4 linked regions of the Homo sapiens genome follow. The protein of the gene in region 1 interacts with the protein of each later gene in a biochemical or structural test. Each region holds a gene or a part of one and is shown on either strand. Other genes may lie near its edges.

Evidence for each region.
Region 2: the proteins of BCL11A (region 1) and NR2F1 form a complex in vitro, tested with the Homo sapiens proteins (2 studies listed by BioGRID).
Region 3: the proteins of BCL11A (region 1) and EZH2 form a complex in vitro, tested with the Homo sapiens proteins (one study listed by BioGRID).
Region 4: the proteins of BCL11A (region 1) and NR2E3 form a complex in vitro, tested with the Homo sapiens proteins (one study listed by BioGRID).

Annotation. Positions count from the first base shown.
Region 1 is NC_000002.12:60,466,393-60,473,763, reverse strand, and holds part of BCL11A (BCL11 transcription factor A), read left to right. Parts: intron 1-4,930; coding exon 4,931-5,032; intron 5,033-7,371. UniProt on the Homo sapiens protein: Transcription factor. Associated with the BAF SWI/SNF chromatin remodeling complex. Binds to the 5'-TGACCA-3' sequence motif in regulatory regions of target genes, including a distal promoter of the HBG1 hemoglobin subunit gamma-1 gene.
Region 2 is NC_000005.10:93,578,068-93,586,401, reverse strand, and holds the start of NR2F1 (COUP transcription factor 1), read right to left. Parts: upstream 3,181-8,334; 5' UTR 1,379-3,180; coding exon 916-1,378; exon of another isoform or gene 813-915; intron 1-812. UniProt on the Homo sapiens protein: Coup (chicken ovalbumin upstream promoter) transcription factor binds to the ovalbumin promoter and, in conjunction with another protein (S300-II) stimulates initiation of transcription. Binds to both direct repeats and palindromes of the 5'-AGGTCA-3' motif.
Region 3 is NC_000007.14:148,825,010-148,832,380, reverse strand, and holds part of EZH2 (histone-lysine N-methyltransferase EZH2), read left to right. Parts: intron 1-2,532; coding exon 2,533-2,653; intron 2,654-3,500; coding exon 3,501-3,641; intron 3,642-5,114; coding exon 5,115-5,217; intron 5,218-5,748; coding exon 5,749-5,927; intron 5,928-7,371. UniProt on the Homo sapiens protein: Polycomb group (PcG) protein. Catalytic subunit of the PRC2/EED-EZH2 complex, which methylates 'Lys-9' (H3K9me) and 'Lys-27' (H3K27me) of histone H3, leading to transcriptional repression of the affected target gene.
Region 4 is NC_000015.10:71,805,579-71,813,553, reverse strand, and holds the start of NR2E3 (photoreceptor-specific nuclear receptor), read right to left. Parts: upstream 3,001-7,975; 5' UTR 2,811-3,000; coding exon 2,693-2,810; intron 2,072-2,692; coding exon 1,945-2,071; intron 1,789-1,944; coding exon 1,685-1,788; intron 1,600-1,684; coding exon 1,378-1,599; intron 1,219-1,377; coding exon 1,043-1,218; intron 166-1,042; coding exon 1-165. UniProt on the Homo sapiens protein: Orphan nuclear receptor of retinal photoreceptor cells. Transcriptional factor that is an activator of rod development and repressor of cone development.

The sequences.
Region 1 (7,371 bases):
CACAACTCAAGTCACAGGCATAGCTAATGTTTGCTCTATAATACTCTGATAAGTCAGAGAATCTAAGTGAGAAGAACTGGTATCTATGGTAAACATAGGGTCAAGAGCTAGATGCGGCTGAATAGAAAGGACATTTACTTTGCAGTTAGGTAAAGAAGCCTCTAGCTCAGACTAGCTGCACTGTTGTTATTTGTGTGGCTTGAACCTAGTAATCGGATTCAGAACTGGAATGGGTTCCTTCAGGGTACTTTACAAACGTTCAGGATGCATTTTAAGTGTAGTCTAGAAGGTGGTACATGGAAGAGCTGAGGGACTTGAGGATTATGGACTGCGAAAGGACTGTAGGTAGTCCTGTATTTTGGCCTGTCACCAATATAGAGACCCCTCCTCATCATAGTGTCATCCATTCTCTTTTTGAAGACCCAGGGTGAAAGAAAGGGGGTCACAGTGTCACGAGATAGCCCATTCCACGTGGGACAGCTCTACTGCTTTTGTGCCTGTCTCACTGAAAAAAAAAAAAAAACAGGGAAATTATCTAAAAACATATGTTTAGGAAATATACACACATTCACACACGTACACAGACACATATGCACACACTCACATATACACACACATGAACACGCTAACACACATGTGCATGCACATGCTAACACATGCACAAGCATACACACACATGCACACAGTCACAATATACACACATGCACATGCTCACAAACACATATGCATGCACACGCTAACACACATATGTACACATAAATGCTTGCAAACACACACACACGTACATTTTAGTGAATAGCACACATCTATGTACTCCTGTGGAGAGTCCTGTGGTTTTAATACCTGTTAAAGTTGGGCTCCCAAAGCAGTCATTAAACGTGTTGGAATGATGCTTTTTGCTTAGCTGTTTTGGCACATTTGGAAATCTGCAGTATTACCTGTTGATTAGTAGACAGTAATGTGGCTGTATTACACACCCAGTGATTAGTTTCAGAAACAAATAGCATGTTAATAGTCAAGGAATCTTTGAGATGTTCTTGAGGAAACCAAAAAACTTGATTTAATGACTTAAATTCCAGGAACATCCCACTGGGCTTAGAGCTCTTTGTCAAAAGTTGGTACCCAATATATGTAGAAATGTAAAGTGACCAAATGTATAACATTAAATCAAAGCCATTCCCAGTTTGCTGCATATTTTTTAATGAAACCTGAAAAATAAGAGTCACTATTTTTAAATTCAGCCATAAGGAAACTTTGCAACCTAATAATGTGTAAGGCATTTCTGAGGCCCCAAGTGGAAATACTGGGTCTAGAGAGACCTTTATGAAATAGAACAGGTTGAAACACCTTCCACCAGAAAAGTGTAAGACATTTGAAAAAAGATTGAGTCAGAAAAGGGAAATGTGTCCCATTTGAGAGACCAGAAAGGGAAACAAGAGTCCAGTTCCTGCTGTGTCCGTGCAGTTGCCACAGCTGCGTTCGCTGACATGTCGGCTTTAATGGAAGCAGTGAGGACACAATCTGTCTGGCACAAGCTGGTTTGGGTGTTGTCTCATGCTAAGAAGGCCCTGGACCTGATGGAGAGCCTGGACCTGTTCCCTGTCCTTATCAATGACAGACGGAGGGTGGAACCTGAATTTCCTAATGGAGGGATCCTTAGGGATTCCCTAAGCTTAATTTGTTTTTGACTGTTCCAGTCCTAAAGGAGGTGGGTCCTGGACAGGAGGGAAAACAGCCTCATGGCCCATGGGTCTCTGCCCAGGGAATTTCAAAGCTTCCAGCGTTCATACTTCCCTTACCCTAAGACAGCAGTGCTGATTCAGCTTGAGTGTGCATGAGAATCACCTGGAGAATTTATTCAACATAGAAGGCTGCTTCCCCACCCTCAATTTCTGATTCAGTAAGTCTGAGGTGGTGCCCAAGAATTTGCATTTTGAACAAACTCCCAGGTGATGCTGATCGGGGGTGGGCCTGGGTCTGCGCTGTGAGAATCACTTGCCTAAGAGCACTAACAAAGAAAAAAAGAGGACATAACTAGATCACCCACTTCCTAGCCAGCAACCAGAGCCCATCTCTGGCTGGGGAGAATGAAAGCGAAGGTGGGAAAAGAAGAGGCCCTCAACCAGGGGCAGCTCCTTTTCCCCACCTTGGCCTGGGAAGGCAGAGCTGCTCCTCGAGTTTGACGCTCAGAAGCATTAATTGTGATACTTTACTTTGCCTAAGCCGTGATGAAATAATTGAAGGCATCATAGCAAGAAGTTAAGCCCTAGGGAGGCTATTAACAATTTAGCATTTCCAGTTCATGTGGGAATGTCGATTTTACTTACCAAAGAGAATATTATGGATGTGTTTAGTGGAAGAAGCAGCAGAATCAGCTGGGGTCCCCAGTTGGCTTTGCTTTGACCCTCTTCCTGAAGGAAGATAAATGCAAGGGTGAGTCTCACAAAGACAGTGTGCTTTTTTTCTAAAGTAAATAGCTTCTTAGGCTGATAGAAATGTTTTTAGCTGTCTAATTCTGCAGGGGAAGCAGAGGTAGAGGGTGAACACAGCAAAGGTGAGGCCAGGAGGCCCAGGCAGCAGAGCAGGCCTTGTTTTCCAATTGTGAGACCAAGTCAGTTCATTGGCACCTTTCGAAAGCCCCATGTAGCGCTGCTGGGCTGGACCCTCCCCCAAGACGGTTAAGTACTGCTTAATGGATCAGTAGAAACAGGACCTTCTTGTTGGGCAGTGAAGACCACGGCAGGAGCAGCAGGGGGGAAGAGACAAATTCCCAGGAAAGACCACTGGATCAGGAGTCAGGAGATTAATTCTAATCTTCACATTGTGGTTAATCATCAGTGTAGCCATGGGCAAGTCACTTAATTTCTCATGGCCTCAGTTTCCCCATCTGTAAAATGAAGGGACAGACTTGATGATAGCTAGGGTTTTTTACAACTTAGAAAACAAAAACAAAAACAAAAACAAAAACAAACTATGCTGCCAGATAGTCAGATGAGACCTCACTTTGCCACACGGCCAGACACTGTAGAGATCTGGTCCTGCCGTCAGCTTGTTTAGGGCTAATGGGTTTGTAGACAAGTTTGCCAACAAGAGATTCATGCGAGGGGCTAGGCATGGATTAGGTTAGCAGTTCTCCCATTTCTTGCTGGAGGCCTGCTGAAGCACTTCAGGGTCTCTTCCCAGAGTAAGTGGCAGAGAATTTGAAATTTGATACTCCCCATACAAGGATCCAAGTACCTGTTGCGTTTATGCTGGGATCACAGAGATACCTGGGTTGCCTGTGTTTCCTAAGAAAAGGATGTCTGTTTTGGCAGCAAACTTAGTGAACGGCTGAGGCAAAAACAAGTGCAAAGATGGATTCTCAGATTTCTCATTGAAAAATACCATGACAAAATCTGTAGTAATTTTACGCCACACTCTCAATTCACTTGACGTAAACAGTCAAATGTAGACATACTTGTTTGTTAAGTCCGGTCTTCCTGCTTGTGTTGGTTCACTTTGTGGTGTTTATTTTGTTTTGGGTCAGAGAGGATGAAATGTCTCTGTAGATGTTCTCAGGCTAGGTGGTGCTTCCACCAGGGCTTCCCTCTGCAGGCCTGGTAACAGCAGACCTATGCTGTCTGTGTAAGAGCCTTCTCAGCAGCACACCATCGTTACCCACCAGGCTCCTTGCGAAAGGAAATCTTGTCCCAACTGCCTTGGCTGTGCTTGGCAGTGTGCTCTATATAAGGAGAACAGGATGTATTTTACACTTGAGACCTGCTATCCTAGAGTACAACAACAACACTTCTAAGTGCTCTTAATATTAAGCTAATGGAAAACATACTGTTTGTTCACCATCAAAGTCTGTTTTTCTTGTCTCCCGCCCTCCCCAATCATCATGAACTCCAAACCTCTAGAACACACAGAGCGTCTCCTGCACCATCTATCCTCCAGTCTGTCTCAAGATGGACAGCTACATGGTTAGTTAGCTAGAGGAGGACTTGGAAAAGCTAGGCACTTACCACATAAACCGTAAAATCCCCAGATTGCACAAACCAAATTTTCCTCTTCTCAAAAAAATCTCAGTGCTACAAATGTTTCATTGACTATTAGATTCATTTTATTAGTGTGAGAAGTCACTTGTCTTCACCAGAGTACAACAAAGTGCAGTAAAATGGTGAAGATGGGTCAGGGTTTCTGGGTGCTGGCATTATTGGAATGCTGGTTCTTTCCTTGTCATTTAATGGTCAAAGTTATTTGGACCCCAGAAGTCTAATCTTTATCTTCCATTGCTTTGTATTGTGAGAAGCCACATCTGTGTAAGGTTTCCAGTTGACAGGATTCTAGAGTATGGCCCAGCTCAGTCCAGAAATGCCCAGGTTTCCCCTATCACTGAAGGCGCTATCATAAATATAGCATGGGAAGAGGGGGGCAGAGGGACAGAGAAAGCAAAGTGGGACTCTGTCCCATAAAAAACGATTCACAAATCTACTCATTTCCTATCAGCATTTTGCTTTTTGCTTGGGTTTGTCTATAAAGTAAAGTTAATGTATGCATGTAAACCAGCCTTGCAGATAAAATCCCCCCATGTTTCCAGGCTACCCACAATATTACCAGTTTTCCCCTTGCTGCTTACACATCTTCTTTCCACAAGACAATAATCAAACAACAACAAATAAATAAGCAAATGAACCAAAGACCACCTCTCCCCTTTCCTAAAACAAACCCTTTCACTTTTGTCAAAAAGACCGAAATTGAAAACAAAACAGAAACTCTGGGAAATAACTCACCACTCTTCTTTTGTTTCAGGCCTTGGGCCTGTTAACTATCTGCAAGGCTGTTGTAATGATGTTGTAATCTATTTTAATGGAATTGAAATGTGATATCCTGTGGTTTATGATGCACGTTGTTTGTAGCTGTAGTGCTTGATTTTGGGTTTCTTTCACAGATAAACTTCTGCACTGGAGGGGCCTCTCCTCCCCTCGTTCTGCACATGGAGCTCTAATCCCCACGCCTGGGATGAGTGCAGAATATGCCCCGCAGGGTATTTGTAAGTTGAGCCTTATTTCTTCTACAAATGTCCATGTGTATAGAGATGAGAATTTCTGGAAATTGCCCTTACTTTTTAAGTACTGAAGGAGTTACTTCCAAAATAGATTGTCATATGTATTATTCCATTACTCACTTGGCAGCCGCTCCCCACTCCACTCAGCCCCAGAGGGACTTCTTCCCTCCCCTTTTTCTTTCCTCACTGGAGGCTGGGAGCTGATAGTAGCTCATCCCTGTGGGTCTTCTCCCCAGGGTCTTGTCTTGCTCCGTGGCTAGTGATTGAAGATGCCTGTGCCTCTGGAGCCCATTTTATTACTGGACATTCACTCCTGTGGCCTCATTTAGGACTTTGGGTATAGTCCATGGCACACATCTTTAGCCAAGGCCAGAATCAAAAGGAGTCAGTTTAGGGTTATTCCAGAGTTATTCCAATGCATATTCCTTATGTATTTACATGTGTATTTGAACATAGTATATGTTGTATATTCATGCCCACACATAATTTTGACTAATTTTTCTCCTGGTTTTAGAGAAAAATGCACATCATTGTAGTTAAAATGTGAAGGCTCTACTATCACCACCACCACCACCACCATCACCACCACCACCACAACCACCACTGCCACCATCACCACCACCACCACAACCACCACCATCACTACCACCACCACCATCACCACCAGTACCATCACCACCATCACCACCACTACCACCACCACCACCATCACCACCACCACCATTACCACCACCATCACTACCACCACCACCATCACCACCAGTACCATCACCACCACCACCATCACTACCACCACCACCACCACCACCATTACCACCACCATCACTACCACCACCACCATCACCACCAGTACCATCACCACCAGTAGCATCACCACCACCACCACCATCACCATCACCACCAGTACCATCACCACCAGTACCATCACCATCAACACCACCATCTCCACCACCACCATTACCACCACCATCACTACCACCACCACCATCACCACCAGTACCATCACCACCAGTACCATCACCACCACCACCACCATCACCATCACCACCAGTACCATCACCATCATCACCACCATCACCACCACCACCATTACCACCACCATCACTACCACCACCACCACCATCACCACCACCACCATTACCACCACCATCACTACCACCACCACCATCACCAGTACCATCACCATCACCATCACCACCAGTACCATCACCATCATCACCACCATCACCACCACCACCATTACCACCACCATCACCACCACCACCATTACCACCACCATCACTACCACCACCACCATCACCAGTACCATCACCATCACCATCACCACCAGTACCATCACCATCATCACCACCATCACCACCACCACCATTACCACCACCATCACTACCACCACCACCACCATCACCACCACCACCATTACCACCACCATCACTACCACCACCACCACCATCACCACCACCACCATTACCACCACCATCACTACCACCACCACCATCACCAGTACCATCACCGCCATCACCACCACCATCACCACCACCACCACCACCATCACCACCACCACCACCACCATCACCACCAACACCACCATCACCACCACCACCACCACTACCACCACCATCATCACCACCACCACCACCACCACCACTGCCACCACCATTTACTTGTTCAAGTGAGCTTTTATAGTAGGGACCATTTTATGAAACTTAAATTTGTCCATTTATACAAATGTTTTCTGAAAGATACTGTTTTAGAAAATAATACAGTTTGCTTCTCTGTGTAGGAACACATGGTATGAATCATGCATGGCTAAAAGGTTAGGGGGTGGGCAGTGATTCCACCCTAAACACAAAAAAGCAGGTTCAAGAAGAAAAGAAGTGTGACATCTAATTTTTATTTGAAAGTAAATGAAAAATAACCTGCTGTGGAAAGAAAAAAAAAGAAAAGGAAAAAGGTCATGGAGAGAGAATAACAAAGAGCAAGATGCCAGAGTTAAGGCTCTAAGGGGGACTGTTTTTAGATGGGAGGGAGATGACACTTACCCATCTTGTAAATGGTATCTGAAGAGCAGGGCATGCACCCTGAGACCAGATTCAAAGCCAGTTGTTTATTTTTGTTAACTCCTAGGTAATCCTAGGTAACAAAGAGTTATTGTGTGAATTTCATAAGCCCTCAGGTCCTGAGGGCTGGGTGGTTCAGGGGTTAAAAGCACCTCATCTGCTCCCTTCCCCCAAGCTGGGCCTAAGCCTGGGTTAGGTCACAGATTGCAGAAGGTTTAGGAGGTTGGGCTCACGGTTTCTAGTCCCTGCATGCTGGCTGGGTGGGGA
Region 2 (8,334 bases), on another chromosome or scaffold:
AAACCCATACAACACAGGGATTAAATGATGTGGAAGCTCATGCTAGCTGCAGTCTATGCATTACGGCCAAATCAGAAGGATCGGTAAATGCCGTTGTAAATTGTAATTTGTATGCAGTATTTAAGCAGAGGGTGGAGTTTGATGAAGAAATAAAACGAGTATCATGCTTTAAAAAAAATGACACAACTATGAAAGCACGGTTCAGTCACAAACTTTCCTTTCAAAGTAGAGGGGTGAAAACAAGGCCACAGCTCTGGAGGAGGCGGCCCCAGCTCCGTGAAGAAGAGAGGGAACCAGTGAACGGGCCAGAAGCCCCCCTTCCCCCCTAATTAGACCTACAAGTGCAATAAATCTCACTCCTCTTTTTCCGAGCTAAGCTTCCAAAAGGATGATGGCAGCAATGAATCTATGGTTCAGGGTACTCCAGCCCCCAGCCCTCCCCCATTTTAAATAAAGGGTATGAAGAGGTGGAGGGAAAAGTGGAATGAAAAAAAACCACAGAAACAGAGTTTTCTGGGGGAAATAAGCACCCCTCCCCAAGTTCATGCCAGCACAGCCCCAAGCAGCCTCACGCACACGCGGGAAAGAGACACACACCGAGCACATCCAAGACAGAGGGAAGAAGGGGATTTTAAGCCACAGCTCACGATCTCAGGGACACAATCCTGAGCAGGCAGCGGGCGGGGTGGGGGAGCCGGGGAGATGAGCGCAGGCCGGGAGGGGGAGGCAGCGGCAGCGAGCTGGGGAGGGCGGGGGGAGACGCCGGGGGAGGAAGGCAGCCGGGAGAAGGAAAGCTGGGACGGGCCGGGACCACAGGAGCCCCAGCCCCACACAGCAACCACCCGGGCGAGAAAGAAAGAAAGAGCCAGGGAGGCGGGCGAAGCGCGGGGAGAGAAGCAGAGAAGAAATATTCACCTTCCCGCCTCATGCCCACTTTGAGGCACTTCTTGAGGCGGCAGTATTGGCACTGGTTGCGGTGGTGCTGGTCGATGGGACAGTTCCTGTTGGCACGGCATGTGTAAGTTAAGTTCCTGCGGACGCTCCTCTTGAAGAAACTTTTGCAGCCCTCGCAGGTGAATTGGCCGTAGTGCTTGCCGCTCGACTTGTCCCCGCACACCACGCACTCGATGTGCTGCTGGCTCTGGCCCGAACCGGGCGGGCCCTGGCCCTTGTCCCCCGCCGTGCCGGGGGTGGCGGGCGCTCCGGGCTGGCCCGGGGTCTGCGGCGTGTGCGGCGCGCCCGAGCCCGCCTGCTGCTGCTGCTCGCCGGCGCCGCCGCCGCCGCCGCGGGCCGCCTGCGCTGCGGGGTTGGGGCCGCCGGGGTTGCCCCCGGCCACGTCGTCCTGCGGATCTCGCCAGCTGCTAACTACCATTGCCATATCTTTGGGCCCGGGGAGCGCTGGGGGGAGCCGAGCTGCTCGCCGAGGGCCGCGGGGCGCGCGGGCGCGCTGGGAGGGGAAGGGGAAGGGGAAGGGGGGAGGGGGAGGGGGCGGGGGGCCCGCCGGGCGCCCCGGGGTCGCAGGAGCCGAGCCCGAGCCGGACACCGGCCGCTGCCTCCGCCGCCGCCGCCGCTGCCGCCGCTACTGCCTCGGCCGCCCCGCTGCTGCTGCGCGCCCGCCCGCCCTGCTGGCGTTTTGTTGTGGTTCCTGCTGTTTTCTTTCTCTCTTTTTGCAGCCCCCCCAGGCTCTCAGGCTCCCCCCCCAACACCCCTGCTCCCCTCGCCCGCTCCCCCCGCGCTCCGTTCCTGGGGGGGCCGCGCTCTCCTTCCCCCCTCCCCACCCCCCGGCGAGCAAGCTCCCTTCTCTCGCTTTTTTCTTCTTCCCCAAGTTGCAAAATCAGAAATGGCACAGGCGGCAGCCGGGAGCGGCGCGGGGCGCAGCGCCGGGGGCGGCGGGCATGGGCCACGGCGCGCGCACACACTCGCCCTCCGCCTCGCCCGCACCCCCGCGCACACACACACTCGCACACACAGTCGCTCACCCGCGCCGGGCGCCCGCCCGCCGGCCGCTCGGGCTACGCGCAGCGCGCGGGCTGAGCCGACATAGAGGAAGCCGGCGAGGGCGGAGGCGGCGGCGGCGGCGGAGGAGGAGGAGGTCGCGGCTGCAGGCGCCGCTGGAGCTGCCGCCGGAGCTGCTGCGGCGAGCGCCGCTGGAGGAGCCGGGACCCGGGCCGGAGTCCGAGCAGGAGTCGGGGCCGCAGCCGGAGCGCGAGCGGAGGCCGGGGCCGCCCGCGGCGCCGCCGCTGTCCCGGCGGGAGCCCTCGCCGGGCTCGGGAGTGCGGGGAGCGCGGTGAGCCGAGCAGGGCGCTGGGCGAGGCTGCCGCCGGCGATCAGGGCGCGCGGGTGTCGGGGGGCCAGGTCCAGGGCCGGACGCAGCCAGCCATTCAGGAAGGCAGCGCTGGAGAGCGGGAGGCAGCCGGCGAGGAAGATCACACACTTTGCTCTTTTTGTTGTGCCGGTGGCGCCGGGCTCTCGCTGCCTTCTTCTTTCGGGAGGTGACGGAAGGGGGAGAAAAATACGGGATAATTCACGCCGGCGACGAAATCACAGCGAAATAGAAAAAATAAAAATCAGAAGAAAATAATTGCCAAAAAAAGGAAAAAGGAAAAGCGAGAGAGACATCCAAAGTAGGTCGAATAAATAATCCTCTTCTTTTCCTCTTTCTTGCTCCTTCTTCTGCTTCTTCTGCTATAACACACAGAGCTAGTTAAAAAAACCCTGGAGATCGCCCAAAAATGTTCTTTTTTTAGTATTTTAAATAAGTGCTCTTCAGCCGGCAACCAACACCCTCCCTCCAAAAAAAATCATATATGTATAAAATAACGATAAGAAGAATACGAAGGGGGTGCCTCCTCCTCCTCCTCCTCCTTTTTTTTTTCTTTAAGTTTAGCCCTCTCTCTTCTGCAGGAATGGAGTAAAAGAGACAAGGAGGAGGGAGAAAAAGGAGAGAAAGGAGAAGAAGAAGGGGAAAACAACTAGTAGAATATGTAAGAAAAGAGAAAGAGAAGAGAGGTTCAGAGAAGAGAGGAGAGAGAGAGGAGAGGAGGGAGAGAGGGGGGAGAAAGAGGAGAGAGAGAGAGGAGAGAGAGAGAGAGAGAGAAGAGAAGAAGAGAGAGAGAGAGAGAGAGAGAGACCCAAAAATTGAATGCGTTTAAACGGGAGGACTCGCAGAGCAATGTTTCCGAAAGGGGGATCTGCGCGAATGTCTGTATATAGTGAACTTTGACACTACTATTGAAACTGACACGTTTCTATGGAGATCGCTGCCTTATATGGAGCTCGTGTCAAGGAGCCAAGAGAAGGGCTGCTGGCAACTGATAATCAAAGGCGACTGACTGGTCAGAGCCCTGAATCGGGGGGAGAGAAAATGGGAGGCTAAGGTTAGCCAAGCCTCCTGCACGCCATTGGTTGGAGAGCCCCTCCCCCCTCCTCTTTTGCTTTCTTTCTCCCCCCCCCGCTTAGCTACCTACAGACTGGGATGGTGTGGGGAGGAGGAGAGAAAGTGAGGGAGGGGGGTGTGTTTCTGACAAGCGCAATTTACATTGAGATCGCCCTGCGCTGCTATTTACTCTGAGACCTGATTAGTATGGGTCGTCTATGGTCACACACACACACACATACACACACACACACTTACGCTCACACCCCAGAGGGGGAAGGGATGACGAGGGGGAGAACGCCTAGCGATGGGCAAAAGGAGAATTAGAGGGAAATTATTTTGATTTCTTCTGAAAAGTTTTTAAAATTAGATTTTATGAGCGTGAAGAGAGTGTCATTGAAAATGTTTGGAAAAATTTTTAATGGGAATGAAACCCCCACCATTTTAATGATTTGTGAAATATACTGGATTTGGATTGTTTTCTTCTCTCACATATAAGCACAATCCAAGTCTGGATTCTGCTCATTTTATATCCTTTTTAGAAACAAGTAGAAACAGGGTAGGATCTCCCTATTTTTTAATCCAAAGTATACCTTGGTTTAAAAGGTTTAATGATGACAAAGCACACTCCTGGAATTTGCAGCTATTGCCACAAATTCGATCGGAATCAAGGGTTCCTATTTATCCCAAAGATGATTTTAAAAATAAACTTTCCAATCAATCCAATTTTTCCTTCTTCTTTTTTTTTTTTTTTATCACCTGGCTGTTCCAAACTCCAACAATGCTTCAATCATTATTAATAAAACAGTAGTAAGTCCCCATATTGTTGCAGGGTGGGGGGAGATTAGTGTGGCCAAGTCAGTCCCGGGAAAAGAGCAAACAAACGAGAAGATGGAGAGGGGGGGAGGCGGAGAGGGAGAGAGAAAAGGGGGAGGAGGAGAGAGAGAGACAGAGAGAGAGGAGAGGAAAGGAAAGAGAGGAGAGAGGAGAGCGCGCGAGATATTGAGAGAGAGAGAGAGAGAAGAGAGGAGAGGGGAGAGAGAGAGAGAGGAGAGAGAGAGAGACCCAGAGAGAGAGGAGAGAGAGAGAGACCCAGAGAGAGAGAGAGAGAGAGAGACCCAGAGAGAGAGAGAGAGACCGAGAGAGAGAGGAGAGAGGAGAGAGAGAGAGAGGAGAGAGAGAGAGAGAGGAGAGAGAGAGAGAGAGAGACGAGAGGGAGAGGGAGAGGGAGAGGGAGAGGGAGAGGGAGAGGGAGAGGGAGAGAGGAGAGGGAGAGGGAGAGGGAGAGGGGGAGAGAGAGAGAGAGAGAGAGAGAGAGAGAGAGAGAGAGAGAGAGAGAGAGAGAGAGAGAGAGAGACCGAGACCCCGATTCCTGAATCCTGAAGGTGATTGGTCGCGGGAGGAGGGGCAGGCGGGAGGAGCGGGTCCCGCGGCGGGGCTTGCAGGAATCGCTGGCTCCGGCTGCCACCTAGCGGACGGGAGCCGCTCCCGGGCGGCACACAGCCGAGTCCCTCCTCCCCTCCCCGCAGGCAGCCTGTGCCTTTTCTCCAAACGAAGACAGCACTTTGAAAATTCTTTCAATGGATTTTTTTTTCCTTGAAAGATCGTACTGGGGGAAAATGATACTTCTATTAGTTACATATTCTCCAATCGCATACTCGCACCCCCCTCGTTTTGAGATCGCTCCCCTAGGCAGGCTCAGGCGGGCGCGGAGCCGCGCGGAGTGACAAAGCCGCCGCTGCCGCCGCCGGGGGTGGGAGCCGCGCTCGCCCGCCCGCCCCTCGACTCGCGAGGGCGTAAAAGTTTGTCTCAGCTCGAGCATTCCTAGCGCCAACACGCCCTCAGGTAAAGGTGGAAGTAAATGGCCACGCTGTATTGACAGAGGTAGGGTTTGTTTTTTAATACTCGTTCTCACTTTAAGTCTCACCAGGGAGGGGTTTGGGAAGCACTGCGTGTTTGGGGGACGTTTTGCGCTTCCTGGTCTCTCCAGCCTACAAGTCGGGAGTCGGCGACCGCTTAGTGACGAGCGATGATTTTAAAGAGCAGAATAAAAGGTTTTCCCGTGCCTGCCCCACAGCCCCTCCAGCTCGAATAATGGAGAACTGTCAATGCACTCCGCGAGCGGTGGCCCATTGTACGCAGCTGATGGCGAGGAGGCGACTGGGGGTAGCAGGGGCTCCTTGCCCTCGTCCCTATGCCCAAATAAACGCGCAAACGCGCTCCCGTCTTCTGGTCAGTTAAAAGGTGAAACGAACACGATTAAAATAGACCAAAAGAAAAGAAAGAAAAGAAAACCTTTCTATGTACAGATTCTAAATCGTACTCCCCATACAGTCAGAGGCAGGGAGTCGAGGGCAGAGGCAGCAGGCGGAGAGAGGGAGATAGGGCGAGGGAAGGAGAACGCGGAGAGAGACGAAGGGAGTGGGAGACCAGCGACAGCGAGCGCCAGGGCACCGCAGGCACACTGGATGCCCAGTCCGCCGGCCCAGCCGCCCTCGGACCCTGGACCGTGCGTCGTGGGCACCAGAAACGAGACTCGGCCAAATCCTGCCTCACCAGGCAAGTAACATAATGGTTGTCGTTTCTCTTGAACTTGGGGTTGGTAACGGGCAGGGCCGGGAGGCAGTCTTGGCTCGCACGGCCTCCGCAGGCCGAGAGCAGAGTCTAGGCAGCCAGGGCGGGACGAGGAGAACTTTCTTCGGGGCCTGCTCGGGAGTTGCCCTCGCTCGGCCTCTGTCTCGCCGTAGCGCTAAGGCGAGGATCGCGGCCGCCGCGCCTCCTTGGAGGGGAGGATCGTGCCAGGCGAGCAGCAATCCACATTCAAAACAGGCTGCTCCCACCCCCACCCGCTATTCCCTCTCTCTCCTAGGCGGGAAACGGATGCCCGGGCGGAGGACGGGGACCCGCACGTTTAACACCGGCCCGGCTGTTCCTGCTGGTGCCGAGCGCGACCCGCGGTGGAGCCGGCTGCAGAGTCCGGCCCGGCTGGCCCTTGTGCCCGCGCCTTGCCTGGTTACGGCCTGAACCTGGCGAGCTTGGCTGCAGCCGCCCACCTGCGGACGCCGTTTGTAACGCCATCCCCTAATGTAACGCGATCGATGGCTGCCTGTCTGATGTGGGCGATAGTGTCAGCGGATTAAAAGGGACATCGAGCCGCTCTCCCGAGCAGACAACCTGCGGCGGCGGCGAGAGAGCACCGGGATTCGCAGCCTAGCAGCCGAGCCAGACTCCCTGCGCCGCTGCCAGCCGGCTGGGGGCGGGGAGGGGGTCGCCTCCCAGGGGTGGGGACAGAGGGGGTGTGTTGAAAGGAAGAGGCTCAATTAAAACCAACAAGAGCGCTTTCCTCCGTGCGGGGCAGGGGCGTGCGTTTGCGTCAGAGGGCGCGCGGGGGGCGGGGGCAGCCGATGCTGGGGACTGCACCCGGGGGCTGGGGGGTCTCGGAAGCGAGGAGGCCTTGCCTAGCTGGGCTGGCCCGGGGTCAGGCCCTGTAGGTGAGGGCCAAGGCGAGACGGGATGACAGCTGAGCCTGCCCGGGAGCAGAGGCGCCCACCCATCCTTACTGTGGGCTCTCCGTGCCCCCACAGAGCTTTCAAACTTGAAAGAGGCCCCTGGGACCCGGCGTGACCCTAGCGGTGGGGAGAAGTTGGGCCCGCGAGGCCTCAGGCGAAGCCGCGGGCTCCTCCGGAAGGAAGGAGGAGGGTGAAGTCCCCTGTCCTAGTCCCAGGGGTGGGAGTGGGAAGCTGTTGGTGGTGATGCCCGGAGCAGCGGAAGCCCGCGGCTTTTCGGAGGAGGGGAGCGGCTCGCACTCCTACGGGGCATCCTTGCCAACTTTCTGTCACAAGAGGGGGCGGGGAGAAACCAAGGCTTTTCGAGGAGGGCGCTGTCCCCCTCTGGAACTCGTCCGGCCTGAGTGGCACTTAGAGCTCAGTTTCTCTTCGGAAGCCTGTGCTCCCCGACCGCGGTTGCACACCCACAGGGCGCCCCACTTGTGCTCATAGCCCTGCCTCCAGCAAAAATGTCTTCCCTAGAGGCACTGAGAGGTCAGCTTAGTTCCTGGGAAGCCCTTTCTTTCTTTCTTCAAGGCTCTCTTTTGATACTGGTCCCAATTGGCACACTTGTCCTGGGCCTAATGCGACCCACACTCAACCAGGAAATAATGATATCTGTTGTTGTGGGGTAGGGTACCTAATAGAAAACTGATCATAGTTTTCGAGAGTACTTAGATCCCCCAATTGGGAAATCCTACATACTTGTCCAGGCACGCTCAGCTGCAGGAGCAGAAAACGCAGTTGTAGTGTCCACGTTTCTTTCACCCACCCCCTCTTCTTCAGATCTCTCTCCCTCCCTTCTAGGCCAGGCCTTTCACCTCGGAACCTTAAGCTGAGTCTGGACGTGGTTCTTGGACTCGGACCGCTGTGGCTCTTGCCTCAGCATCCTACCCGAGGCCTCCAGCCAGGCCCACAGGGGCTCAGCCCTCTCCAGGGTCTCTCTTTCGGTTTGGCGGGTCTGGGAACTGTAAGGGCCTTGCCGGGGCCTGGGCTCCCGGGAGCCTCCCTTCCTTCCTCTGCCTTCCTGGTTCCCACAGACCTGTTCAGTGCACACTAGATCTTTAGTGTAGTTCCCCAAAAAGGCGATGAGAAGGTACCGCTCCGCTTGGGGAAAGGAATTAGGCTGTAAGCCTATAGTACCCCTTGCGGGCTGCTAGCATCAAGCTCAGCGTTAATCACGTTTTAAAAGACATACCAGACAAAGCTTGATCTCTCCCAGCTTGCCACCCAGTAAATTGTGATCTGGTGAGAGAGGAAGAGAAGCACAGATCGGTTTGGCTGCACATTCAGGGTTGACTTGCGTTCCAGGCCCCAGAATCCGGATCTAAGCGGACTGTCTGTCTGTTAACATATCCTCTCCCTCCATATCTTTCTTACCACGAGGCTGAACCATTTTTCACTAATTCTATG
Region 3 (7,371 bases), on another chromosome or scaffold:
TGGGCTGGGCATTGTGGCTCATGCCTGTAATCCCAGCACTTTGGGAGGCTGAGGCAGATGGATTACTTGAGTCTGGGAATTGGAGATCCACCTGGGCAATATGGCAAAACGCTGTGTCCTCAAAACAAAAGTTAGCTGGGTGTGGCGCATGTCTGTAGTCCCAAGCTACTCAGGAGGCTGAGGTGGAAGGATGGCTTGAGGGAGGCGGAGGTTGTAGTGAGCTGAGATTGTGCCATTGTACTCTAGCTTGGGTGACAGCCAGACCCTGTCTGAAAAAAACAAAAGGAATGAAGCTTATAGTTCTTATCCTTAAAAAAGTCAGTGTCCTGTAATCTAAGTCTGACTTTGAGTTTTTGTTAATTGAGAACTTATTATTTAAAACAACTTTAGGTAGCATTTTATTGTGATAATGTACATTATGGTGTAAAATTCATAGGGCTTGTGAAACATGAGCTGAAACATAGTTCCATTGCTAACTCTGACGCAGCAGCTTTTGTAATAAAATGCTAAAGAGAAACTGAAGCATGTGTTCTTGACTTGTATTGCTAAATAAAAAATATATAGTTGTATTACTTAATTGATATATAAAGTGGGAAGGCTAATAAAATGTTGATAGAAGTCCTTGGTGAACCTGCTTTGGGGAAGTTTTTAGTAACTTTTATACTTTGTACAGTAGAGTCTCAACTTCAGTTACTCTTCTGTAGTTGTATAAATTTGAGTGTAGTTTGAGAATTACATTGCATGACCTTGAGGGAAGTTTCATGTTTTCACAGACTGAAATTCTGGAAGAATATATTATTTAAATTTGTCATTAATTTATGAATCACCCATGGATTTTGCTGGTCTAGCCTGGGTGACAGAGCCAGACCCTGTCTGATTTTGCTGACCAAAGCAGATTAGGCACACAATCTTTATTGTAACTAAGATACGTTTTGGAGAGCAGGATGATGTGGATATGATTGAAAAGACAAAATATCTAAGTGTCACTTGATTTTGGCTTAGATAGAAAGAAATCAACCCCTAGTTTAAATGAGATTAGTGCAAGTGAAATGAGATGAAAACAGGCCTCTAGTGTGTACATAAGCTTGAATTTGAATATATGAATACATTAAAACCTGCATTTTAATTATATGCTCCTTTTATCCCACTTTTTCTTTTCCTTGTCTGTCTACGGTACTTGTTATCTTTATGAACTCTCCAGTTGTCCTAAATTTGTTACCTAGGGATTATTTGAGATTTTTTCCACATTCCCTGGCTGCTACTAGTCCTGTGTGTGGCCTTTCCCAGCGTGTTCTTACCTGTGGGCCATGATCATAGTGCTGGGCCGAGCCTACGCCATCTCACCCTTTAAAGAGCTTCTGTGTCCTCCCAGTCAGGCATAGCCAGTCCATTCTGCTTATTATAATTATCTTTCTAAAATTCTGTTTTCAACCAATACTCTTTTCAAAGGCCTCTTAAGACTTAGACTTGTCTTCACTTGGAATTAGTCTCTTTAAACATGTACTTCAGAACTGTCCAGTCTTTATCTATAACTGCTGTCATTTTTATTCTTCATTGAAAATGCTCTTCCTCCTATGAATGTCAACTTTCTTTACCTTGTATGCTTAACTATTCTATTCTGTCTTAACTTTTGTTTGATTGGCTATTCTTCTTTCTTCTCTGTTGTCTTCCAAAGCTTGATAAAAACTCATCTATCATCTTTACTAGCACTGTCAACTTTGATATTCATCTCATTCATCTAAATATTGAAATATTTTATGTTTTTGTAGAATGTTCTTATTTTACATATAAGTACATATCCTTTTGGCATAAACTTTAATGGACTATCAATACTCTGTATCCCTAGAATTTTATTATATTGGATGTCTTACATTTTTTTTTCATTTTACCTTAAACTATTACAAGTTAATGGCTGTTTTAATAACTGGATCATCAAGTGGAGTTTGGGAGTCTTAGGGTAGTTTTTTGGTATGGGTCTTTATAGTTGATCTTGATACACCATATTTCATCATCCTCTATTAACATCTAAAGTGCGCGTTAAAACTGATGATGGCTGGGCATGGTGGCTCATGGTGTCAGACACCTGTTATCCCAGCACTTTGGGAGCCAAGGCGGGTGGATCACTTGAGCTCAGGAGTTCGAGACCAGCCTGGGCAGCATAGTGAGACACTCGTCTCAATTAAAAAACAAAAACAGAAAAACAGACGATGTCTTCTCATAATCTAGAGCATCTTTTTCTTTCTTAGAGGTATGTACAATAATGGTGGTAAGTTTTAATGATTGATGACAGACTAAGTGCATTATTTTTTCTAGAATTAAATTTTTTTTCTGTCAACAGTTTTCTCAGATATGCTTATTGGTGAGAGGGGTCTTTTATTTTTTGATAAATTTTAGAGTTTGCTCTCTGACTAGTATTTTAAATCTGGAGAACTGGGTAAAGACATGTACACATGAAAAAAAGGTTGTATTTTAGTTATTTCACATTTGATACTTAGAGTAAACCTGCTTTTTAAATATATTTTTTTCTTTTAGGTGGAAGATGAAACTGTTTTACATAACATTCCTTATATGGGAGATGAAGTTTTAGATCAGGATGGTACTTTCATTGAAGAACTAATAAAAAATTATGATGGGAAAGTACACGGGGATAGAGGTGAGCCATATGCTTCTTCTCTTGGAAAAAGGGGCTAAAGAATTGAGAGACACTTTTGTTTATGAAGCATATAGGGCATGAGAAAAATTTTAATATTAAAATTAAGTTTTGCACTGAACTATAAGGGACTGAACCTGGGCCCAGGCCTAAGATTTTCAGTATTTTCCCTAACTATTTTTGGGAAAATTAGTTAGGAGGATCATGTTTGCCACCTGATAATTATGCATAGTTGGTTATAACATAATGGCAATAACATGTAAATTAAATAGAACTTGAGTGTATGTAGATTTTAAGATTCTTTAGTAGTAAAATTAATTAGGATTGGGGCTCTGCTTCTGTGGCATATAGGGGCTCCAACAGCCCCTACTACTAAAAAATACCGCTCCTCTAGGGACTACAGTACCTGAAATTCAATCCTTAGAGTCATGGTTTCAGTTTTTTGTGTCCAGGAGGCCCTGTTAAAGTGTCTGAAAGGATAATATTTGTAATATCATCATCCATTGTCATTATCAGCAGAAAGCAGGGTCTGAAATGATCAGTTAAAGGACAGATCCATTGTTTGGGAGGAGGCCAAAGCCACAATCAGTTCCTAGAAGATTCAGTTTTCTACTAGAAAGTTTTGGGGAGGGGCCATTCTACAGAAAGTAGCAGGTATTAAAGATAAGTTTGCTTCCTTTGCCTAACACCAGTCCTGAAAATGATCTTATCTTTTCCTCCCCTCATTTCAATAATAATGTTTTAGTGCCAGTTACTAGGCTATGCCTGTTTTGTCCAAGTAGAAAAAGGATACATAAACTTTTGACATTATTGCTTCTCCTGTGTGTTTCTGACATTTGATGCGTTTCAGAATGTGGGTTTATAAATGATGAAATTTTTGTGGAGTTGGTGAATGCCCTTGGTCAATATAATGATGATGACGATGATGATGATGGAGACGATCCTGAAGAAAGAGAAGAAAAGCAGAAAGATCTGGAGGATCACCGAGATGGTATGCCTGATTATTAGGATTCTGTGTAGCCATTACAGCTTTCTTTCAAAAACAGTAGAAAGAGTAGAAATAGGGCTTAGTTTCTTCTTTCTCTTTTTCTTTCTTTGTTAAATATCACATTGATAGCAGTATAATCAAAATTAACATATTATGGCCAGGTAGGGTGGCTAACTCTGTAATCCTAGCACTTGGGAGGCTAAGGTGGGCAGATTGCTTGAGCCCAGGAGTTCAAGACCAACCTGGGCAACATAGTGAGACCCCATCTCTACTAAAAAGTAAAAAAATGAGACAGGGTGATTGCTTGAGCCCAGGAGGTGTAGGCTGCATTGAGCTGTGATTGTGCCACTGCACAGTCTGGCTGGGTGACAGAGTGAGACCTTGCCTTAAAAAAGAAAAAAAAAAGCATAATACTTGCAACATTATCTTCACTTGAGTATCTTTGTTTCCTTTGGCTAGCAAAGAACGTAATTTTTTGTGTGCTTCACTGGGCATCATTATAATATATAACATTGATATTCACCGTGTACAAGTTGTGTACTAATCACTTCTTATGCACCAGCTCACTTAATCCTCATAATGGCTTCATGAGATGGATGTTATTATCAGATCCATTTTCTTTTTCGAGACGGAGTCTCGCTCTGTCGCCCAGGCTAGAGTACAGTGGCCCCATCTCAGCTTACTGCAAGCTTCGCCTCCTGGGTTCACGCCATTCTCCTGCCTCAGCCTCCCGAGTAGCTGGGACTATAGGCACCTGCCACCACACCCAGCTAATTTTTTGTATTTTTTAGTAGAGACGGGGTTTCACCGTGTTAGCCAGGATGGTCTCTATCTCCTGACCTCGTGATCCACCTGCCTCGGCCTCCCAAAGTGCTAGGATTACAGGCGTGAGCCACTGCGCCCCACCTGTCAGATCCATTTTCTATTTGAGGGGATAGATTTAGAGAGGTTAAGTAACTTATAAGATTACACTATTGGGAAGAAACAGAGTCAATAGTTGGTGTTCTCTACTTGGCAAAGCTCATGCTAAGGCAGCATAGAATAGAATAATTTGGCGGGTGAAATAGCAATTTCTAAGAAGCGTATTTCAAAAAAGAGAAAATAACAAAAAGGTACCTTATTGACCTTATTGATCATCTAGTTCAGCTCCTTCATTTTACAGATGAGTAAACAGACCCAAGAGGTAAAGTGATCACTCTAAGTCACAAAATCAGTTAGTAGCAGAGCTGGGAGTAGAACCTAGGTTTTCTGCTTCCCAGTGCTCTTAAAGCTTTTCATATTTGAATTTGAATTTTGTTTTTGACTGACTGGCATTCCACAGACATGTAAAGTATGTGAGAAGTAAGTAAAACACAAAATAGAGATGATTTCTTAGAAAATCAGCTTTGTTATAGAGACATAATTGGGTAGAGAAAATGAAAGATCAAAAACTTGTTTACTTCCATTCTTTTTTTCCTTTCATATTCTCCTGTTTAGATAAAGAAAGCCGCCCACCTCGGAAATTTCCTTCTGATAAAATTTTTGAAGCCATTTCCTCAATGTTTCCAGATAAGGGCACAGCAGAAGAACTAAAGGAAAAGTAAGAATTTGTTCCTTTGAGGCAATCTTGCCCTGTATGGTATGTAACTCACCATTTTGGTTTATTACAAATGGAATCAATGTAGCGGATGAGCCACTACACTTTGTTTACAGTGTTTGCAAGATACTTGAAGCAACATGTGTACTTGTGGTACTCTGCATTACAAAATATTTCCTGTAGATAGAATAAATACATATGTATAATTTATATATACACATAAACACACACATATACATAAAATTTACAGTAGTACATTTACAGGAAAATTATCTGGATACTGGTAGAAATTTGATGTTTAGTTAAAACTAATATAATATCCTTTTCCATGATATATTTGAATCATATCGATGAATTTGATTCTTGATAACACCATGCACAATATTTAGTTGGCTCTTTATCTAAATAGAGCCATTCCTTTATGTTTTAGGCAAGATAAACATCAAAAGTAACACATGGAAACCTTTTAGAAACTGTTTTCAAAAAAGTGATTTTTGTTTCATGTTTACTTAAATTTTTCTTGGTTAATGTCAGATATAAAGAACTCACCGAACAGCAGCTCCCAGGCGCACTTCCTCCTGAATGTACCCCCAACATAGATGGACCAAATGCTAAATCTGTTCAGAGAGAGCAAAGCTTACACTCCTTTCATACGCTTTTCTGTAGGCGATGTTTTAAATATGACTGCTTCCTACATCGTAAGTGCAATTATTGTACGTTTTCATTTTCTATCTTTGTTGTGGAATTATGTTTTAAAGCAGCTTGGAGAGTGCTATCATTTATTACAACTAGAATTTATCATTTAATCTTGTAGTTACTTTGACAAATATCTTTAGATCTCAGTATTATTATTTTTACTTTGTTGCTTGAGGATTGCTCTGAAATCTTTTGCATGTATTTCATTTGGACTACTATTTTCCACTAACATGGAATTCAGGTCAGTGATTTTTTTTTTTTTCCCCCGTAAGTGCTAACTAAGCAGTTGTTTTACAATAAAACTATTATTATGAACTGGTAGCCCAGAGCAACATTGCTGATATTGATGAATAAATTGTGTTAAATAAGAAATTGGCCAAAAAAATGTTCAGGTAAGTGCTTGTCGATTTAATGTAATTTTATTTTATTTTATTTTATTTTTTTGCCCTCTGGGTAAGTTGTTTTTTAAAAATACCTGCATTTGAATACAAGTAAAACGTAAAATGTTCTTAGTGAAAATGTAAGTATGGTATATACAAAAATACTTTTTTCCTCTGGCATTTCTAGGGAATGTGGTTTCTTAGTAAATTTTCCTGGTAATTGAAACTTCTAAGCACAGTTTAAAAGCGTCAACTACTTTTGAGGCACATATTTTGAAAATGTATTTAATACTTCCTAATTTTCCTAGAGTAGTTTGCTTATTATAGTTTGGTTTTTCCTATATTGTATTTTAGTACGTCTGTCTATGGCATGGTAATTTCTTTAGGGGCTTTGACCCATTGTAAAATCGTTTTCCCCTGTACTCAACGGCCCCACATTGCTTTGTTGTTTTGAGTTCCTGTGCCTACCATTGACAGATTTATTCCTCCTCGTTCACCAATGATAACGTCTTTTTAAGCTTGCCCAAGCAGCTGTACCTCACCTCCTCCTAAGTGTTTGCTCTACTTGTTTTTGCTGCAGCTAATAATGTGTTGAGTGATGTAATACATTGGTCTGGAAATGTTAAGTTTTGTTTTTGTGTGTGACATATTAGTGGTTTAGTTATCTTAAAATAGAAAAACTTGAAGTAGATTTTTAGAATTATCATTATATTGTTACCTCCTTGCTCTTGTTCTAACTCCTCATCTAGTTTAAATTGATTTGGTAGTTTTAAAAATTCGTAGTAAGTCATCCATTTGTTGCTTCAGCCATTGGACAGTTAAGCCCTTGAAATAGTTGTCTTGAATTTCATTTTAATTTCCCTTTACACACCATGAATTTATGAATTACATCGAGTTTTTATTAAGACTATTGGACATTGTATGTAGATATCACTATAGCAAAAGAATTGAGTGGAAGCACTATTTTGGAGTCGCTGAAAGGTCCTTCCAATTTGTTGTTTATAGATGTAGCATTTAATAAAGTTTTTTTGCTGTAAAAATGAACCATAGAAGTAGGACACTACTTTTAAACATTACAAGT
Region 4 (7,975 bases), on another chromosome or scaffold:
CTGCAGGACACGCGTCTCCATGCTGGCCAGCGTGAGCCGGCCCTGGGCACCACCGGCAGCAGAGGCCTCGGGCGGTGCCAGCAGAGGACAGCTGTCCAGAGGCAGAGACCACTGGATGGCCCCGAGGAGAAAGAGTTCACTCCACGCCTCTTCCAGCAGGATCACCTGTGCTCAGACAGGGGTGCCTGTTATGGCAGACACACAGCTTCTCTGGCTCAGTCTGGAGCCTCTGCCACCATCTCAGGCACCCAAGGAATGGAAGTGCTGTCCTGGGACCCGAGAATGCTCTCCTGACATCAGCCAGAGGCTCAGAGCTCTGGGATTTGGCACCATCCGGCTCAGCTGCCTATCATCTGAGACACTGGGTTCCATCCAGAGCTGCAGCTGGGACATTTAGGAACGCCCAGAGCCATTGGAAGTTGGGCAGCCTCAGAGACATGCCTCATGAGTGTCCTAAGTTGAGTGTATTCAAGTGGTGTGGCCTGACTCTTCTGAGTTGCTCCACCCCAGCACACAGACTGGCTGAGGGCCTCAAACCCTCCTCATGCCTCTCCTCCTGGTTTTCCTGAAAGATCTGCTTGCCCATTAGAAGCCGAGAGGGATGGCCCAGAGCTGGAGAGATTGAACTAAAATGCAAGCCCTGAAGTCGTAGGCACTTGTGCTCCAAGGGGGCCTAGAGTCAGCCACTCAGCCTGTTCAGGGTGTGCAGGTCACTTGTTACCCACAGAATGTCTGCAGGGCCTGAGGGTCTTCCAGAACTTAAGAAGACCCTGGGCCCTGTAGGTCCCTAGCCATCATCATCTCCTAGGTGTGCACCCCGACCATCATCCCTGTGCCAGAGATGCATGCACCCCCACCGTCACCATCCCTGAGATGCACCCCAGCCATCGCTGAATCAGAGGTATGTGTGTCCCCAGCCATCACCATCCAAGCTGTGTGCATTCATACTGGCGTGGGGATGTGTGTGCCCTGTCTGGTTGACTCGAGTGGGCCGCCTGACCCCAGCCCAGCCTAGCTCCCCAGCAGGCAGGCCGGTAGGTACCTGATCCCGGAAGGGCAGGCTGGAGAACACAGGCAGGTTCTTGGCCCACTTGACGGCCATGAAGAGTAGGCGAGCCGAGGTCTCATGGATGCTGTCCAGGCCGCAGGGGGAGGAAGAGGAGTATGGAGAGGAGGGGAACTCAGGGTCATTGCTGGTGACATCAATATTCTCATCAGCTGTTGGAGGAGGAGGTTGTGATCTTAGCGCCTGCTTCTCGGGAGGTGGCAGGGAGTACTTGGAGCCCCGGGGGAGGGAGGATCAAGGCAAGGCGCTGCAGCCCTGCTGTGACCCGGGAAGCCAAGCCCTGCTGTGCCCTCAGCTGCTCTCCCACTCACCATCCTCTGGCTCCAGCTTAGCACAGGTTTCAGCTGTTATAAGGCTGGCCATGAAGTGGTGGCCCAGGGCTCTGGCTGCAGACATGGGTGTGGGGCCCCGTGGGCTGCGCCCTGCCGGGGCCGGGGGAGCCACCAGGGACTCCGGCCGGGACTCAGTGTTGGACTCCATGCTGTCCAGGTGGACCTGGGCTGTGCTTCGCGGCTGGCGCTCGTTCTGCACGGCTGGGGAGGCAGGAAGGGTCAGGACGACACGCCAGTCCCGCTGCCCATTTCTTGTCACCTCCCCCCGGGCCAGCCCCCGCCTCACCGTCCTGGTTCATCCCCGCCTGCAGGCACTTCTTCAGCCGGCAGGCCTGGCACTGGTTGCGGTGGGCCTTGTCCACGGGGCACATCCCTGCCCCCACCTGGCACCTGCAGGTGAAGAGGAGACCCCAGGGGTCAGTGTCCCTCCCATGCCCTGAGCCATGGGCTTGGACATTTTTGCCCAAGCCCCTCTTCCCCTGAGCACCCCCTCACCCCTCCAGAACCCCTCAGGGGCAGACGCCCAGCAGGGCCCACCGCACTCACCTGTAGATGAGCCTCCGCCGTACGCTCCTCTTGAAGAAGCCGCTGCAGCCGTTGCAGGCATAGATGCCATAGTGCTTCCCGCTGCTGCTGTCTCCGCACACGCGGCACTGGAGCGAGGGGCTCACGCCTGAGGGGCAGGGGGCAGGGCTGGGCCAGGGCAGGGCTGGGCCGGGGCAGGGCTGCACGCTCCCCTCCTTCCCTCGGGTCCCTTTCCCAGTCCTCAGGCCCCGCTCACCCGCATTTGAACGAACCCACGCGTGACTCTTCCATCTGGAGAAGTGTCTCCCTCACTGTGCATCCACACCCCAGCCCCCACCCCCATTCCTTGCCCTCTCTCCTCCCTCAATGGCCAATTTTCAGCAAGAGTCCGAGCCCTAGCTCCACTTTCCCAGCTCCCATCCCTTCTCTGTGGGTGGCTTCAGGCTCCATCATCCCACAGAAACATTCTTGTCAACGCCACTAGGGACCTCTGTGCTGTTAAGCCCTAAGGGCGCTTCTCTGTTCTTTCCTTCCCCATCGGCTAGGCTGTCCTGTCCTGGCTCTGCAGCCTGCCCGCCCCCAACCCCCATCCCCGCCCCACCGTGTTTCTAGGATTCTGGGTTTACCCACAGGCTACCCCACCCTTGCCCACAGCCGGCGGGGCTGGGTCTGAGTTGTTCTGGCTCCTTCCATGGTCCCTGCGAACCTCTGGCCCTTACCCTGCTCCCCAAGGGCCCAGACCCAACCCTACCTCCAGGAGAAGCCATACCTGTGGGATCCTCCCCCAGGCCCCATCTGCCTGGAGACTCCTTCCTGGAGGCAGCCCCAGCTGCAGGCGCAGCTGCAGCCACTGTGGAGCTCATCAGAGCTGTTGGTCTGGTCTCCATGGGTTACAGGGCAGCCTCTGCCTGCCTGCGGGAGGCCTGGGTTGCTGAGCCTGGCCCAGCCTTTGCCTCAGTCCATGAACCTCTGTCTCTCTGTGCCCCTGTCTCCCTTCCTGAACTCTGTCTGAACTCAGGAGCTGCCCCAAGGTCCCGAAGCCCCTCACAGCACAGGCTCTGGCTTGAGGAGATTTCTCCCGGGGCAGCCGCTGGACGCAGTTTATGATCCTCTTAATCTTTACTGTCTCCACAGGGGATCAACTGGCCACACCTGCAGCATTACCAAGGTGCCCCGGGAGCCGGTCAGTCCTGCTACCCCATGCTGGTTCCCGGGCTGCCCAAGGTCCCCCGGGGCCCTCCTGCCCTGTGTGCTCAGCTGTTCACCATTTCATGCCACATCTTGAAGAGAGGTGTGGACTCCACCTCTCCCAAGGACTTTAAATCTTTTTCTTTGTTTTGATACGGAGTCTCGCTGTGCCACCCAGGCTGGAGTGCAGTAGCATGGTCTCGGCTCACTGCAGCCTCTGCCTCCTGGGTTCAAGCGATTATCCTGCCTCAGCCTCCCAATCAGGTGGGATTACAGGCACCTGCCACCACGCTCGGCTAATTTTTTTTGTATTTGTAGTAGAGATGGGGTTTTGCCATGTTGGCCAGGCTGGTCTCGAACTCATGACCTCAAGTGATCTGCCCACCTCAGCCTCCCAAAGTGCTGGGATTACAGGTGTGAGCCACCCCACCTGGCTGGACTTTAAATCCTTTTGAGCTGCTTGGCACACATCCGAAGGCAAGTGTGTGGCCAGTGTGTGTGTCTTTGCCTGTGGGGGTCCTGCCTGAGACACTCCCCTTGGGTCCTAGGTAGATCTGGCTCTGCCCCACGAGGTTCTCACTCCAATCCCTTGGAAAGGGACTGCTTGGGGCTCACGATTTGAGGATCCAGCCCCCCCAGAAGGCTAGCAGTCCCCAGACACCTGGCACAGAGGACGTTCCCAGAACCGTCCCCCGTAGGGTCTGAGGCTGGCCTGGAGGAAAGAGGCCTGGATCCCCATCTGGAGGGTCTCCTTCAGGCCTGTGAGGGGGCAGAAGAGGAGCTGGCAGGCTCCTCTGGAGAGCCAGGCCTGCAGGACTAGAGCCAGTGAGGACACAGCCACCTTGAGCCTGGCCACGGGCTCTCAGGAGTCCTCCCCTTCCCCCCGAACTCGGCCTCACAGCTCCGCCTGCCTCTTGCCACACCAGCCCCCTGCGCTGCTCCCAGGTCCATCCTTCCCACCTCCAGCCCAGCGATGCCTCTGCTCCTGTGGGAAGGAGAGGGAAGGAGGAACTTGTCTTACATCCTTGCCTTATAGTAAGCCCCGGGCCCCCGCAAGGGAGTGTGGAGAGAGCAGAGGCAGACCCAGGTTCAAGTACCTTCTCCATCACCGGCCAGCCATGTGTCCCTGAGAAAGTGACTCAATCTGTCCAAACTTCAGTTCCTCACCTGTAAAACAGGATGAGAAGAGCACCTGTCCTATGGTGTAGTTGGGGAACTAAAGACAATGGTTCAGGAAATGTGTTTCAGAGCCTGGTACTCAGTAAGAACCTAATAAATGGTGTGTGCAGCTGATATTGTTATATTCTTGGGGTTACTGAGAAGGTCACACTCAGCAGCCTTTTCTTGCCTGCTCCTCCACCCCCAGGCCCACTTGCCAGCCCCCTCCCTGCCCGGGACAGAGCTGAAAGCCCATGTTGTCCTGGAGGGGACCACTTGTCCCCAGCAGACCAGAGCTCACCTCAGGATGAGCTGGGGTGGGGTTGGTCCAGCCTTAGACCCCAAGGGGAAGCGGGCGGAGCGTGAAGCTTCCAGAAGGATCATGGAGTTAAGGGGACAGGGGGCGGGGCCTGGCCCTTATGTAAGTGGGGTTAACCCTCCCTGTGACAGAGAAGCACAATTAGGGATTTGGGAAGTCAGCTCGAGGGGCTTTGCAGGGTAATCCGCTTTCTGGGGCCTCAGAAGATCGAGGCCACCGGGCTGGGTGCTCTCACCTGTTCTCCTCTCCTCCGTCCTCACCCCTCCCTGCCTCCTCTGCCAAAAAGCCCCTCAGGACAAGGTCTCCAGCTCCACCTAAGACTGAAGCTGAGGCCATCCTCCATGGATTTGACTGGCCACTCCCTCCTTCCCGAAGCCGCTCTTTCCCATCTCTTCTGGAACACGGGTCTTTGCCTTGAACTTGTCATCACCTCCATGTACCCAGAGACTGGTCCCAGCAGCCCTTCCCGCTCTCTCCTCGGGCAGTTTCACACACACTCACGGCTTCCAGGGCCACTTCATATCAGTTCCACCGTGGAGTCCAGCTCCACATGCCCCAGACCAAACCACCCCCAATTTATCTGCACAGAGGTAGTAACCCCAGGACTGGGGGGCCGCCTGGAGCAAATGCGTGCAGGTTTGAAAATGCCTAAGGCTGAGCTCAAGGGTCTCAGACTCTGGTGGCTGGAGCCAAGGACAAGCTGATGACAAAGGCACATCAGAGACAAGACGGAAACTCAGGACAGCGCTGCGCTGTCGCGGGAGCCAGGGACGGGGAGGAATCAGCAATGGTGGTGTCACCATGCAAGTGTTCCTTCCGTGTCATGCAGAAAGGAAGCATGCCAAGTTCTTACACAGATCCTTCAAACCTCACAGCAGCCTTGTAAAGGAGCTGTCCTTACTAGCCTCAACTCATGGGTGAGGAAAAACAGAGTCAGAGAAGTTAAGTAATTTGCTTCAGGCCACACAGCTAGTGAGTGGTGGAGGAGGCTGGGGATGCAGATGAGGATTTCAAACTGTGCTTGGCACTGCACTCAGCTTTGCACCAGGACACCCTCCCAGGAGGGGCAGCTGCCTCATTGGGTTTCAGCAGCAGCCGGAGGAGCTGGTGCCCTGGGAGGGAGCATGATTCAGGAGGCCTAGTTGTGGGGAGGGAGCGTGGCTGTGAGGGAAGGAGACGGGGCTGAGGGGTGGCAGGGAGGGTAACATTAAGGAAAGATTTTTTTCCCCAACGAATTTAGATATTTAAAGAAAAATATGTTAGGAATGCAGTTCCTTTTAAAATGGGAGCTACAGAGGAGAAAGAGCCAGGAAGAGAGGTGGAGGTGGGTGTACCTCAAACCCTGCCCCATGCCCAGCATCTCCGGAGAGACACCTGCAGGCTTGAGGGGGCGGCAGCCGGCAGGAGAGAAGGGGCTGCTCCGGCCTGCAGCCCGGGCTTAAGGGCAGGCTTGGGCCAGCACCGCTCCTCTCAGAGCCTGGCTGTGTGGGCTTGGGGAAGTTATTCTGCCTCTCAGTTTCATGCTCTCTGGAATGAGTAGGATGGTGTCCCATTGGGCGGTTGTGGTGGGATTAAAGGAGGTGAACTGAAGCGGAAAGGGCAGATGGAAGGGAGGAAGCGGGGGCAGGGCTACTGGAGGAGAGCGCTTCCTTCTCTCAGGGGCAGCACACGCAGGGGAGGCCGCTGAGCGGGGCTGGCTTTGGCCCTCCTGCTCCTTCTGCCCAGACCCTTCCCATCCCTGAAGGCCTGTCCAGGGCTCACCTCCTCCAGGCTGCCTGTGCTGACTCCACAGGCCACCTGTTTTGACTCCTCAGGCCGCCTGTGCTCTCCGAGAGAGAGCTTCTCCGGGTGCAGATCTTGTCCTTACATTGAACCTCACTCCAGGTCAACTTTCTCTCCTCCATCCAGATGGAAGATTCCAGGGAACAGGCTTAGAGTTTCGGGTTAGCTGGGGATGAGGATCCCAAGGCACTTAATGGACAGAGAATCTGTTTTCAACCTTGTCTGTATTTCCCTGTATTCTGTAGTGGGTATGTATTACCTAAAATGGCAAAAACAAAACAAGCCAGGCCACACAAGAAACCCAGTCCCATCTAAATGAAAGCCCCCTGCAGTGTTTGACCGGCCCATTTTTACGCTGTTGATTTTGACTGTATTCTGTCACTCCATCACGTGGATGCCAGCCAAAATCCCCTCTGAGCCTGGCCCTGGGTTCTTTGGCAGGTCAGGCCAGCCAGAGCTGTGCCCTATGCACTGTGCTGGGGGAATGGAAGCCAAAGCCCAGCAGGGCCTGGGGGTTGGGGGGGTCTCCCCGATCTGTGATCACCAGCTGCTGGGGCAGACGCCAAAGGATTACTCAGCCCAAAGCCCTGAATCTGCTGACTAAGCTGCCAGAGGCCACCTTATCACTAATACAATTATTCCCCCAGGGGACAGGTCAGCAACTTCCTCTGACTCCCAGGAGGTCTGGGCCGGTTGGGGGTGGAATAACAAGGCGTGATAGGGGCAGCAGGACTGACCTCCCTCTGCATCCTCAGGGCCCTGGCAAGGAATCCCCTGTTCTAGCCTCTCTAGGGGGAGCGGCTCTCTGGGCTTCTTGTCTGGGGCATGTCTCAGCCACAATACTGGGTGCTGGGAACAAATCTTCCAGGATCTCTTTTTTCCTTATTTTATTTTTTTTGAGACGGAGTCTTGCTCTGTCGCCCAGGCTGGAAGTGCAGTGGGGTGATCTTGGCTCACTGCAACCTCTGCCTCCTGGGTTCAAGCAATTCTCCTGCCTCAGCGTCCCGAGAAGCTGGGATTATAGGCGCCCGCCACTATGCCCGGCTAATTTTTGTATTTTTAGTAGAGATGGGGTTTCACCATCTTGGCCAGGCTGGTCTTGAACTTCTGACCTCAGGTGATCCACCCACCTCGGCCTCCCAAAGTGCTAGGATTACAGGCGTGAGCCACTGCACCTGGCCCCAGGATTTATTTTTTCTTTCTTTCCTTCCTTCCTTTTCCTTCTTTTCTTTTTTTCTCTCTTTCTCTTTTTGAGACAGGGTCTTGCTCTGTCACATAAGCTGGAGTTCAGTGGCGAGATCACAGCTCACTGCAGCCTCAGTCTCCTGGGCTCAAGAGATCCTCTCGCCTCAGCCTTCCAAGTAGCTGGGACTACAGGTGCACACCACCATGCCTGGCTAACTTTTTAGTTTTTCATAGAGATGGGGTCTCCCTGTCTTGCCCAGGCTGGTCTCGAACTCCTGGGCTCAAGTGATCCTTCTGCCTCAGCTTCCCAAAGTGCTGTCACCATGCCTGGCCCAGGATTTATTTCTTAAACAGTCACCCACCCCCACAAATTCCTGCCCACCCCCCGAATTCCTGCCCCCCACCCCCAAGTGTCTTCAC